Regions from separate parts of the Homo sapiens genome. Here region 2 is linked to region 1. Evidence: fine-mapped QTL for protein levels in blood plasma. Region 1 holds a variant in brackets. A gene starts in the other region. All regions are shown on their forward strands.

Region 1 (5,385 bases):
TTTTCCTCACCCGTGTAACCGACTTCTAGGATTTAAATTCTTTCTACTTGAAACACCTAAAGTGGCCTCTGTTTTCCTAATTTGACCCTGGAGGATACAGCGTGTAAGAGGATAACATAGTCTAGTCCAGCAGGCCAAGGAAGGTTTCCCTCCAGAAGGGGTGTTTGAGTCAAGGTCTCAGAAATGACTAGGCTTTCCGGGCATAGGAGATAAAGAAGTGTAATGGCCCGAGGGAAAGGCAGATTGACATATTACAAGTACTGGGGCAGGCCGGGCACGGTGGCTCACTCCTGTAATCCCAGCACTTTGGGAGGCCGAGGTGGACGGATGAAGAGGTCAGGAGATGGAGTCCATCCTGGCTAACACGGTGAAACCCCGTCTCTACTAAAAATACAAAAACAAAATTAGCCGGGCGTGGTGGCGGGCCCCTGTAGTCCCAGCTACTCAGGATGCTGAGGCAGGAGAATGGCGTGAACCTGGGAGGCGGAGCTTGCAGTGAGCCGAGATTGCACCACTGCACTCCAGCCTGGGCGACAGAGCGAGACTCCGTCTCAAAAAAAAAAAAAAGGACTGGGGCAAAGTGGGCAATGTTGCTGTGCCACAAAGAAACCGAGAGGGGGACTGTCATGAGATAAGGTTGAAGTTTGCAGGGCCAAAGCAGGGGGCTGGCAATCCTTAGTGCCAGTTAGAATCACCTGGAGATTAAATATATATAAACATATAGTTTGTATATATTTATATATAATATATATTTAATATGTTTATACTGATATAAGTATATATCAGTATAAATATATATTTAATATATCAGTATATAGAAACAAATATTTAAATATATAGATATATTTTATATTTTTATAGATATATATTATATATAATATAGAAAAATCAATAAAAATATATACTGATAAAATATATCAGTATACATGTATATATACACCAGTATATATAAATATATATTAGTATATTATATATATACTGATGCTCAGACCTCATCCCAGATTAACTGAATCAGAATCCCTTGGGATTGGGCCAATATGATTCCTATATGCAGTCAGGGTTGAGAACCGCTGGGCCTTGACCATGCAGGGCCTTGTCAGCCATGATCTTTATCCTGATCAATGGGAAGATCCCAAAAGGTGGTGGGTTCTCTGGCTGTAGGGTGGGGAAGTGATTGGAGGGGTCAGGAATTGAGGCAGAAAATCCTGTAGGCAGCTATTTTAGCAGATCAACATGCTACTGGCTTGCTGAGCATGGGAAGGGACAAAAACTGGTTCTGTACTTGCTGGTGAGATTCTCCAGACTGACCCCACTCAGTTCCTCACATCTGCCATCTTGCTCTGGATTTTCCTACTCCCTGTTGGTTCCCTTCAGCTGGGCTCTGTCCTCGTGTTCATCTGCCCTGGAAAGTTTCCTGCTAATGAACCCTCCCCAGTACCCATCCCTCTTTCTCCTGGGCAGATGGATGCAGCCATTCCACATCCCTGCAGAGGCTATTCTGGCAGAACCTAATATCCTAAACTCCTTAAGTACCCTGAATTTTAAAATTGTGATTGTATTTGGCAGTGTTAATCAAAAATTGGAAGTACTGGAATTAGAACCTTTGGCCAGAGACTCTCCGAGTTGAAAGCCCTCCCTTAGAAATAGCCTCTTCCAACCCCTGAATTTCATTATCCAAGAAGATCCATGAGCTCTGGAGAGTTCAGGACCCAGGTCTCCTAAGGACTTCTGCTTCCCTGGCTTTCCTTCACATCTTTCTGTCCTAAGGATTTAAGACCATGAATTTGCAAATGCTCTGCCTGAAGTGTGTACTGAAGCTCTGGAGACCTCACCCGGATTCCCAGGGCCATAATTATCATAATAATGTACAAACGAGAATCTTTCTGTAAATTTAAACCACTGCATTTTCACTTCTTGCTTTGAATTTGGTTTTCTTGCAGCTGCTCCCTCCAGGGGAGCCAGAAGGCTTATTGTCCCAAGGCAGGAGAGGCTGTGTGAGACCTGGTTTTGAAAGCTTTGAGAAGAGAAGAAGTGCTGGGATTCCTTTATCTCCTCCATTAGCATATCAAGGACAAAGCCTAGAGGCTCTTAGGGATCCCCATGGTCTGCTTGGGGAAGACCAGGCCACCATTGAGAGTGGAGTCAGGGAGGCTCTGGGAGAGCAGCCAGCCCCATGGGAACCTAGAGAGTCATGGGAGAGAAAGGAGGAGGTACTAGAGGTTGGAAGGCCAATGAGGCAGAAGCTTGTTTTCTGATTTTTCTTCCTGGGCCCAAGTCTGGAAGATAGGGTGTTGGATCCATGAGGATATTCATGGCAAGGAGGAGGCTGTTGCCTCTGGCCCTGGAGCCCACCTTCAGAAAGGTGCCAGGAGGGTCAGCTGAGGAACCTTAAGTTTTCGCTTTCTCCTGAGTGGTACAGAGGCTGAATGAACTGCCCAAGGGCCTGGCCTGGGCAAGGGAAGGTGGCACTCAGGCCAACGGGCTGGCTGGAGGTGACAGCAATGGCAATCCAAGAGGGATCCTGCACCTCTAACAAGCCCCAAGATCAGACTGAGAGTTACCCTGGCCCCCAGGGGCTCCAGGGGCAGAGGTGACTGTGGGGACCCATGCATGCCAGGGGCACATCCAGGTGTTACTGGTGGAAGGTGTCCAGGTTCTTGGCGTCTTGAACAAATAATTGGACAAAACGCACAAAGTGAGGAAAGCAAAAGCACAGATTTATTGAAAATGATAGTACACTCCACAGTGTGGGAGCAGGCCGGAGCATAGGGGCTCATGAGCCCTGGTTACAGAATTTTCTGGGGTTTCAATACTCTCTAGACGTTTTCCACTGGTTACTTGGTATATGTTCTATGTATATGAAGACAATGAAGATAAGTTACAAAGTCATTTACTCAGAATGTGCCCAGAATATGTAAATGGAGAGGATGTTATTTGGTGTGTGC[G/A]GTCTATGTAAATGCAGAGGACGAATATGAAGTTACAAAGTGTAAATGGAGCGGATGTCACTTGGCGTGTGTGGTCTATGTAAATGGAGAGGATGTCACTGTGTGTGCGGTTTATGTAAATGGAGAGGATGAATGTGAAGTTACAAAGTGTAAACGGTGTAAATGGAGAGGATGAAGTGAGGTTACAAAGCCATTTATATTCCATTTGATTTTGTTCTAGGAAGTCAGCATGGATCAGCCTTACGTTCATGGCCTCCAGGCCCTATTCTCCTGCCTCACAGGGACCGGCCAGGATCTCTATCCTTACAGCACGTTGGAATGTATATGCTCCTCTCCCCACATCGCCTTAGGGAGCAGGCAGGTGTCAGGGGCAGCACAAGGACGGCCAACAGGACAGGTGCATAAGTAAGACTGATACAATTTGAGGGCTCAGCTCTGAGAATACTCTAAACAGGATCCAAATAACATTGTTGCCTCCTAACCAGCAGGTGGGAGCTCAAGAGAAAGACTAGACTTGTTCCACATTAAATAAGTAATAGTATTTTTTCCCTTGAACATCTTGATCATAATATCAATTAAATGTGTGGCCCTGATTCAATAGCTACCATTTATTGAGCATCTATTTTGTGCCAGACTTGCTGCTGGTATTTGATAGTGCAGTGCCTGACAAGTAGACACACTGGCTTAAATGTCATTGTTACTGGTATTATTGTTACAATGATGTTTTAATCCTCCCAATGTAATTAAGCCTTTATTATAAAGATCATAAGATGTTCACTTTACTTATTTCCTTGTCCTTTTCTTCCTCCGTGCATGCTTGCTTGCACGAGGGAAGTCACTAGTAATTGATTAACTTCCTACCCTAACCCCCAGGGCTGCCTGCAAGATTGATGAACTGTTTTTCTTTCAAAGAACAATGATCCTTAGGTCATGCAGACCTCCTTGATAGCATCTAGGAGTTTGTTTGGGCCGAGGAACTCAAACAGTTTTGAGTATTGGGGGAATCCATCTCCTGCATACCTGCTTTGCTCATAAAAGCCCCCAGTTATGTTAAAAGGCAGATTGGATTTGAGAGGCTGCTTCTCCTGCCTTCTTGCTTTAGCCGAGTCAAATAAACCTTCCTCTGCTTCTAAGTGCTGATGTGTCGGTGTTAGGTTTGCTGTATATCAGGTACATGAACCCAAAATTTGGGGTTTGATAACACTAACAGCTCTGCACAGTAAATATTGTCATCCAGTCTTACTAATGGGGAAAACATGTGCACAGGACTTGCCCAAGGTCACACATTTAATCAGTGGCAAAGTCAGAGTTAAAAATATTTATGTACTTTTTTTTGTTTTTATAATTCAAGGATGTATCACTATTTTATGTACCACGAAGAAAGAAAAACAGCTAACTATTAAACTATAATACAGTATTTCCTTCGCATTTAGAATTTTTGTTGTAAACTCATTATAAAGAGCTCTTTTAAACTCAGTTAGACATAGGCTTTGCTTATTTATTGTGCTTTTGCATATATAGAAAAGAAAATATGAGTGAAATAAATTGGTTAATTATTTTAAAAATATCTTCACCTTCAAACCCTTCTTCTTTTTTTAAATATTGTTTTTAATCATATGATTATCTCAATAGAGAAACCCTACTTCTTTTTTTTTTTTTTTTTTTTTTTTTGAGAAGGAGTCTTGCTCTGTCGCCCAGGCTGGATTGCAGTGGCGCGATCTCGGCTCACTGCAAGCTCCGCCTCCCGGGTTCACACTATTCTCCTGCCTCAGCCTCCCGAGTAGCTGGGACTACAGGCGCCCGCCACCATGCCCAGCTAATTTTTTGTATTTTTAGTAGAGACGGGGTTTCACTGTGTTAGCCAGGATGGTCTTGATCTCCTGACCCAGTGATCCGCCCGCCTCGGCCTTCCGAAGTGCTGGGATTACAGGCTTGAGCCACCGCGCCCAGCCGAGAAATCCTACTTCTTTTAAATAACTTTCCAACTCAGAGTTACAGATATCCTCTGTGTGATCAAGGGTGTTGGCAATGCAATATTAAAAAAAAAAAAACTTTATATTTTGGAACAATTTCAAATTTAGAGAAAAATTGCCAGAATAGTACAAAAATTTCCTTTATACCCTTCAGCAGATTCCCACATTTTTTATCTGATTACATCACCTTATCATTATCTGTGTGTGTGTATGTATGCATGTATGTGTCCATGTACGTTATTATTTTCTGAATCAGTTCAGGTAAGCGGCAGACATGACGTCCCTTTATTCCTAAATACTTCAGCATGATTTCAAAAAAAAGGACATTTTCTGGCCAGGCACAGTGGCTCATGCCTGTAATCCCAGCACTTTGGAAGGCTGAGGTGGGCAAATCACCTGAGGTCAGGAGTTCAAGACCAGCCTGGCCAACATGGCAAAACCCGTCTCTACTAAAAATATAAAAATAT
Region 2 (5,385 bases), not on the chromosome of region 1:
TTCCCTCTCCTAAGCTTGAGGCCTCCCTCTCAGAAACCCCCAAAAATCTTACCTAGGAATCCAGGTCTGGTGCAAATGGCTGGGGAAGAAAGAAGGAAATGAGTGAGGTCAATTTCCAAGGCTTTATTCAAAGAACACAACTCTAGAAGGCCTTCACAGAACTGTGTGAGACAAGAGTGGTAGATGCAGAGCCTCCAATGTCAGTCCTGTTGGGACCTTCTTCTTCTGGGATGACCATCCTCCAAGGACACAGGGACACTGGCTAGGAATCACAGAGACCAATTCCACCACAGCTAACTGGTTCAGCCTGCTTTCTTCACACGTGATGGTGGATAGATTGGTTTTCTATTCTAGTCAATTAGATTGATTGGTTGTTACTGCCTGAAGAAAAGTGTGGTGATACAGCCTCTTGGCTCAACAGGAAAGAGTGCTGGAGGCCACTGGGAAGATGCACTGGCCGGTGGAGGTAAAGATGCCATGGTGGGCAGAGCAGAAATTAGGGCAAAGGGGCAGGATATGCCTGTGTTCATCGGCACAGCATTTAGACCAGGTAAGCAAACTCTTACTGTAAGAGGCCAGACAGTAATATTTTCAGTTTTGTGGGCCATACAGTGTCTGTTGCAACCACTCAGCTCTGCCATTGTAGCCTGAGAACAGCCACATATATGTATGCAAGTGAGGACGGCTATGTTCCATTAAACCTTTATTAGACACTGAAATTTAAATTTTTTGTCATTTTCATGTGTCATAAAATAGTATTTCTCTTTTGCTTTTTTCCTACCATTTAAAAATACAAACCTCATTATCAGCTTGCAGGCTGTTTTAGCTGATTTAGATGAATAGCTCAGGAAGTAGCTCTATATGTAGTTCCAAACCTCCAGATTCCAGCACCAGCCTGTCTTTAAAACATGGGGGTTTCTTCCTGCAGGATCTCTGTATATTTGGACTCCTTTCTCCATAAGGTCCCTCCTAATGCTGTAGAGAGTCCTGGGCCCTGTAACCTCCAGGAGTCCCTGAGGCCTATGCATTTTCAACTGCAAAACACCCACCACCCCCATCTTATAGGATTTTTCAGAAGGTGCAAATATCTTTGGACCTCCAGCCTACAGTTTTTCAGGCAGATTCAAGTAGTTCAGTGGTTTATCCTGGAATATTTTCTTTTCTTGGTTTCCAAATAACCTCTCATTACCCTCATTCCCTTAATCTTCAGAATGTGGCCACTCTCAGGCTCAATGAGGCCTTTTCTGCAACTATCCAAAACTCAAGGTTATATTATACATATGGGAATCATTGCATAACCCCAACCCAACATGTGTACATGTGAAGGAAAGTGAGCATGGCAAGCCTGATATGCAGGTGCAAACGTGATATAGCCAGTAAGTGACTTGGAAGCTCTGCAGTAGGGTGGGTAACTGCAGAAGGCACAGGCCAGAAAGGCTTCATGAAGCAGGTGGAAGTGCACATGAGCCTGGAAGACCCAGTAGTATATCCATGAGGGGCAGGACTAGCCGTTGAGTGATGTGGGGGATGCATGGATGTTTAAGATGTGGTCAGTACCTTACATTGAACACAAAAGTGTCCAGTTGAGAGGATTGTGTGGGCTTTGGTGATGTACTAGATCATCAAGACATAAAAGTGGATGTGATTGATTAGCATAGGGATTTACCAGGCATTGTTAGATGCTTTATATTAGTTATCTTATAAAAAAAAATACTCCTAAAAACCTCTGAGGAACATAATATTATCCTCACTTCATAGATGAGAGAGCAAAATTTCAGAGAGGTATGGTAACCTACGAATTCACACCGCTAAGAAATCAAAACGGCAGGATTGAAATCCAGGTCTCCTTGGCTCCACAATCACCAGATTAACTAGGTTAATCTCTAGATTACTCTAAGCAATGAGAAACTGAAGAAAACTAGAAAAACATTATATGAAACACTTTTCAGAGGAAACCAGACAATATGATCAATGAAAGGTGATTGTCTTGCAGTTCTACTTCCTTTCCTGGCTCTACTTGCTGCTGCCCGGTGCCCATTCATTTGTCTTCTTACTAATAGTACATTTAGGAACACTTATGTAAAAAGAGAAATGGGATAAACTATCATGACTCTGTCATTACAAATATAAGAAAATAGAAAAAAATCTGTTAAAGTGAATTACAAATGTGTATGGATTAAGCGGCTTTTTAAGGATTAGAATAGTTACCAAATGTAAAAAGGAGGAAGAAGCTCATCCTTGAAAAACATCTAAATCTGTTCCAGGTTGGCGGGGAGAAAGTTCTCCTAATCAAAGTGCCAGAAAACTCTGAAGCCTAAACCAACAGGTGCAGAGATACTCACCAAGGATCAAGGAGAATAGCAGAGCCATGACCAAGGCAGGTGAAGGTGATGAGCTGAAATTTAAGGCTAGAAGGAGGTCCCCAAGCAGCAATATTTAGTTTTAGCTGCAAGTATGTTAAGAGGAGGGACAAAGACAGGTCCTGAGTGCAGGCAAAGCATTATCAGATGATCAGAAACCAATAGACTCGGGGGGCAGAGCTGACAGAGCTGGACTTGCTGAAATCAGCATGTTCCAGAGGAAAGGAGGTGGCCAGAACTGGCGGAAAAATGCTGAAAACAAAATAGAAACAGGCTATCATGACTTGGTTCTGCTGTAAGTCCAGCTCCGTCTGTCTCTCCTACAGCCCCTTTGCTATGTAAACAGAGGAAACACCTCCCACAAGGAAAGGCAGGTGCCAAAAATATGGCCATCTCTCAGTAGAAGACAAGGCAGTACTTAGTCGCCAAGGATGGTTTGCAAGGGAAATAAGCCAATTTTGATTCCTTTACCCCAGAGGGAAGTGCCTAGAAAATTTGGAAGCCAGAGGCCATGGGATAAATGCAGAGTTGCCCTTGGAGGCATATCCCATAAAACATAATCCAGGGTCATGGTGCCAATCTCCACATACAGGCCTGGCTTTATTGTCTTCAAACCTGCTTTCTCACTGCTAAGCAGAGGGTCCAATATACAGATTTGTTATTTTTCTATGCTTGTGCTGGTGTATGCCCATCTTTGGAAGCTGGATGGAAACAGATCCCTGAGGTGAGGGGCATCATAATCATTGAACTCAAGTTGTCTGTAGGTCTAAGACATGATGGACAGAGATTAAGCAGTAAGACCCTCTCAGGCCCCTCTGCTTTGCTATATTATTAAGTATAGCTATGCTTCATGAGCTATTCTACTCCAGATTGATCAAGCAATCAATTTTGTATGCTGACATAATCTCTGCATTCCAAGCAGGGTAATTGTTCCTCTACAGTAATAATTTTTGCTTCTTTGTAATATTCAGGTAACTCAGCAGAAAGCTTGGTTCATTGTAGGCATTCATTTTTAATCCCACATTTCTTCATTTACTTAGTATTGTATTCAATGAAAAGTTTTTAGCACTCATGAATGCCAGGCAATGTGATGGGTGGAGGCAGTACATGAAGGAACAAGGGATAGTTTTGCACTGTAAAAATATATGGTCTAGTAATTGCAATAACATGTGGAAACCACTGTTAAGAGAGAAAAGTATAACAAACTTTGGAGGCCAGGCGAGGTGGCTCATATCTGTAATCCCAGCACTTTGGGAGGCCGAACTGGGAGGATAGCTTGAGCCCAGGAGTTTGAGGCTGCAGTGAACTATGATCAGGCCACTGAACCTCAGCCTGAGTGACAGAGTGAGATCACATCTCTAAAATAAGAAAAAGAAATGAAACCTTGGAGGAAATGGTTACTATGTTTGGAGCTAATCAGAGAAGACTTCACAGCAATGATGATACTTGAGCAGGGGTTTAGGATGAGTTAAGTGGAGAATCAGAATAGGAAAAGATTTTGCTATGCATATGCAGACAAGTGAAACAGCATTACTTATTCAAGGAACCACAGGTAGTTTGGAATGACTGGATTACAGCCTGCTTAGTGATCAGGGGCCAGGGCTTCTTGATGTTGAAAGGTAAAGACACTAGATGATATGCAAGTAGCAACAAGAGCCAGATAATGGAGGGTATATCATGAATGAGTTTGTAAATGCTAACTATTCACATCCTTCCCTCTCTAGATTCTGAAGTGACACAGTAATAGGTACAGAATTCAGAAAAGGTTCAAAATATCATCTTTACTGTTGATGAACTACATTAGACTGCCACTGGGATCTAAGGCTTTATGCATTTACCTCCATTCTTCAGGAGCTAGATGTGCACAACAGAGTTTACCCTTGGAAAAGAAAAGACTTTGTGTGGCTTGAGGGCAGACAAACCCATTAGCAAACACAGGCTTCATGATTCAGAAATATATTTTCCCCATTCCATGTGGAAAATTGAGTGAAAGAAGAAGAGAAAAGAAAAAGAAAACTTTTCCTCCCAATATAGTATTTTATGAACAGGCGTGAGAACATGAAGAAAGGAAAAGGAAGCTTTTTAGCCAGGAAGGACACTATCCCACAGGACACAAGAAGCCACCGAAGGGTGTTACACATTTAAGGTGTGTATTTTGGCTGCAGCACTGAGCAGGAATTGGGATGAAGACCAGTAATGGGTCATTAAGACCCATTAAGAGACCACTGCACCAGAGAGAGCAGAGGAGGACTTCAATAGGAGGTAGAAGAACGTACCTAAAACTTACTGTGTTTGGAGGATAAAAGTTACTTAATGTGAGCAAGTAGGCTGTATTGGCTGGCAGCTTCTAAAAAGTGGTAAAGGTCTGAAATAATCACTAAAAGGAAAGCGAGTCTGAAAAAGATAAGTAAACTATCTGTTTTCAGCACTGGGTAGAAAAACTTGCATTTGTAAGCAGCATCCATGTGCCCAGCTGTGGAATCTTCTCAGGCTGCAGACAGAAGGCTGGTGTGAGAGGCCCATAAAGCCAGAGATCAAGCTGAGGGGCCCGCCCAACTGGTGTATGAGGCTTAGAGAAGATCAGGACATGGGCTGATGTAAAGTGAAAACAGAAATAAGTTCTGGGAAAGGGAACCTCAGTGAGGAAGTGCTGGGGAAAAGGAGAGTGTTAGAAAGTTCAAGGTATAGGAAGTTGTTCAGAGATTTGGAGAGAAGTGCTTGAGGTTTCAGAGAAGCTGTTCTGGGCAATGACCAGGCACAAACCAGGGTATGAGAAGAGAGTGAAGGAAGAAGTTTCAGAAGCTGAGGGATTTAGGGAATTGAGAAGAGGTTATCAAGAAGAGGACCGGCAAGAAGAGGGAGGTGGAATGGGAGGCACAGGTTGGGGAAGCCCAAAGCTGTGCGGAAGTAGATACCTGTCTGGAGGACGTCAATACATGACACACAACAAAAGCTAGAAGACACTCTGAGGGGCCCTCTCAGGAAGGGCAAGCTTCATGTCCTGCTGGTTTGGCATCAAGGTGAA

Alleles and levels. Alleles are on the strand shown, and positions count from the first base shown. The strength of an association depends on the size of the effect and on how common the allele is.
With allele G in place of A in region 1, the plasma level of the protein whose gene starts at base 2,477 in region 2 is lower (weak association).

Evidence for each region. PIP is the chance, under the fine-mapping model, that this variant and not a neighbour inherited with it causes the effect. Protein levels are from antibody-based Olink assays in UK Biobank. Linkage for the fine-mapping came from a reference panel and not from the study's own genotypes, which makes the PIPs less certain.
Region 2: it holds the start of CD5L, and the variant in region 1 is fine-mapped to the plasma level of the CD5L protein (UK Biobank, PIP above 0.99).

Annotation. Positions count from the first base shown.
Region 1 is chr14:95,574,264-95,579,648 of GRCh38, forward strand. All of the region lies in intron 1 of LINC02318 (long intergenic non-protein coding RNA 2318), which reads left to right. Among named protein-coding and RNA genes, the nearest start is that of LINC02318, 3.4 kb to the left of the region's middle. RefSeq lists enhancers at 1,556-2,478, 2,479-3,400. The variant G/A (reference allele first, on the strand shown) is at 2,946.
Region 2 is chr1:157,839,332-157,844,716 of GRCh38, forward strand. It overlaps CD5L (CD5 molecule like), which reads right to left and starts at 2,477. Exons shown (of 6, transcript NM_005894.3): 1 at 2,343-2,477; 2 at 53-79. The coding sequence starts at 2,370.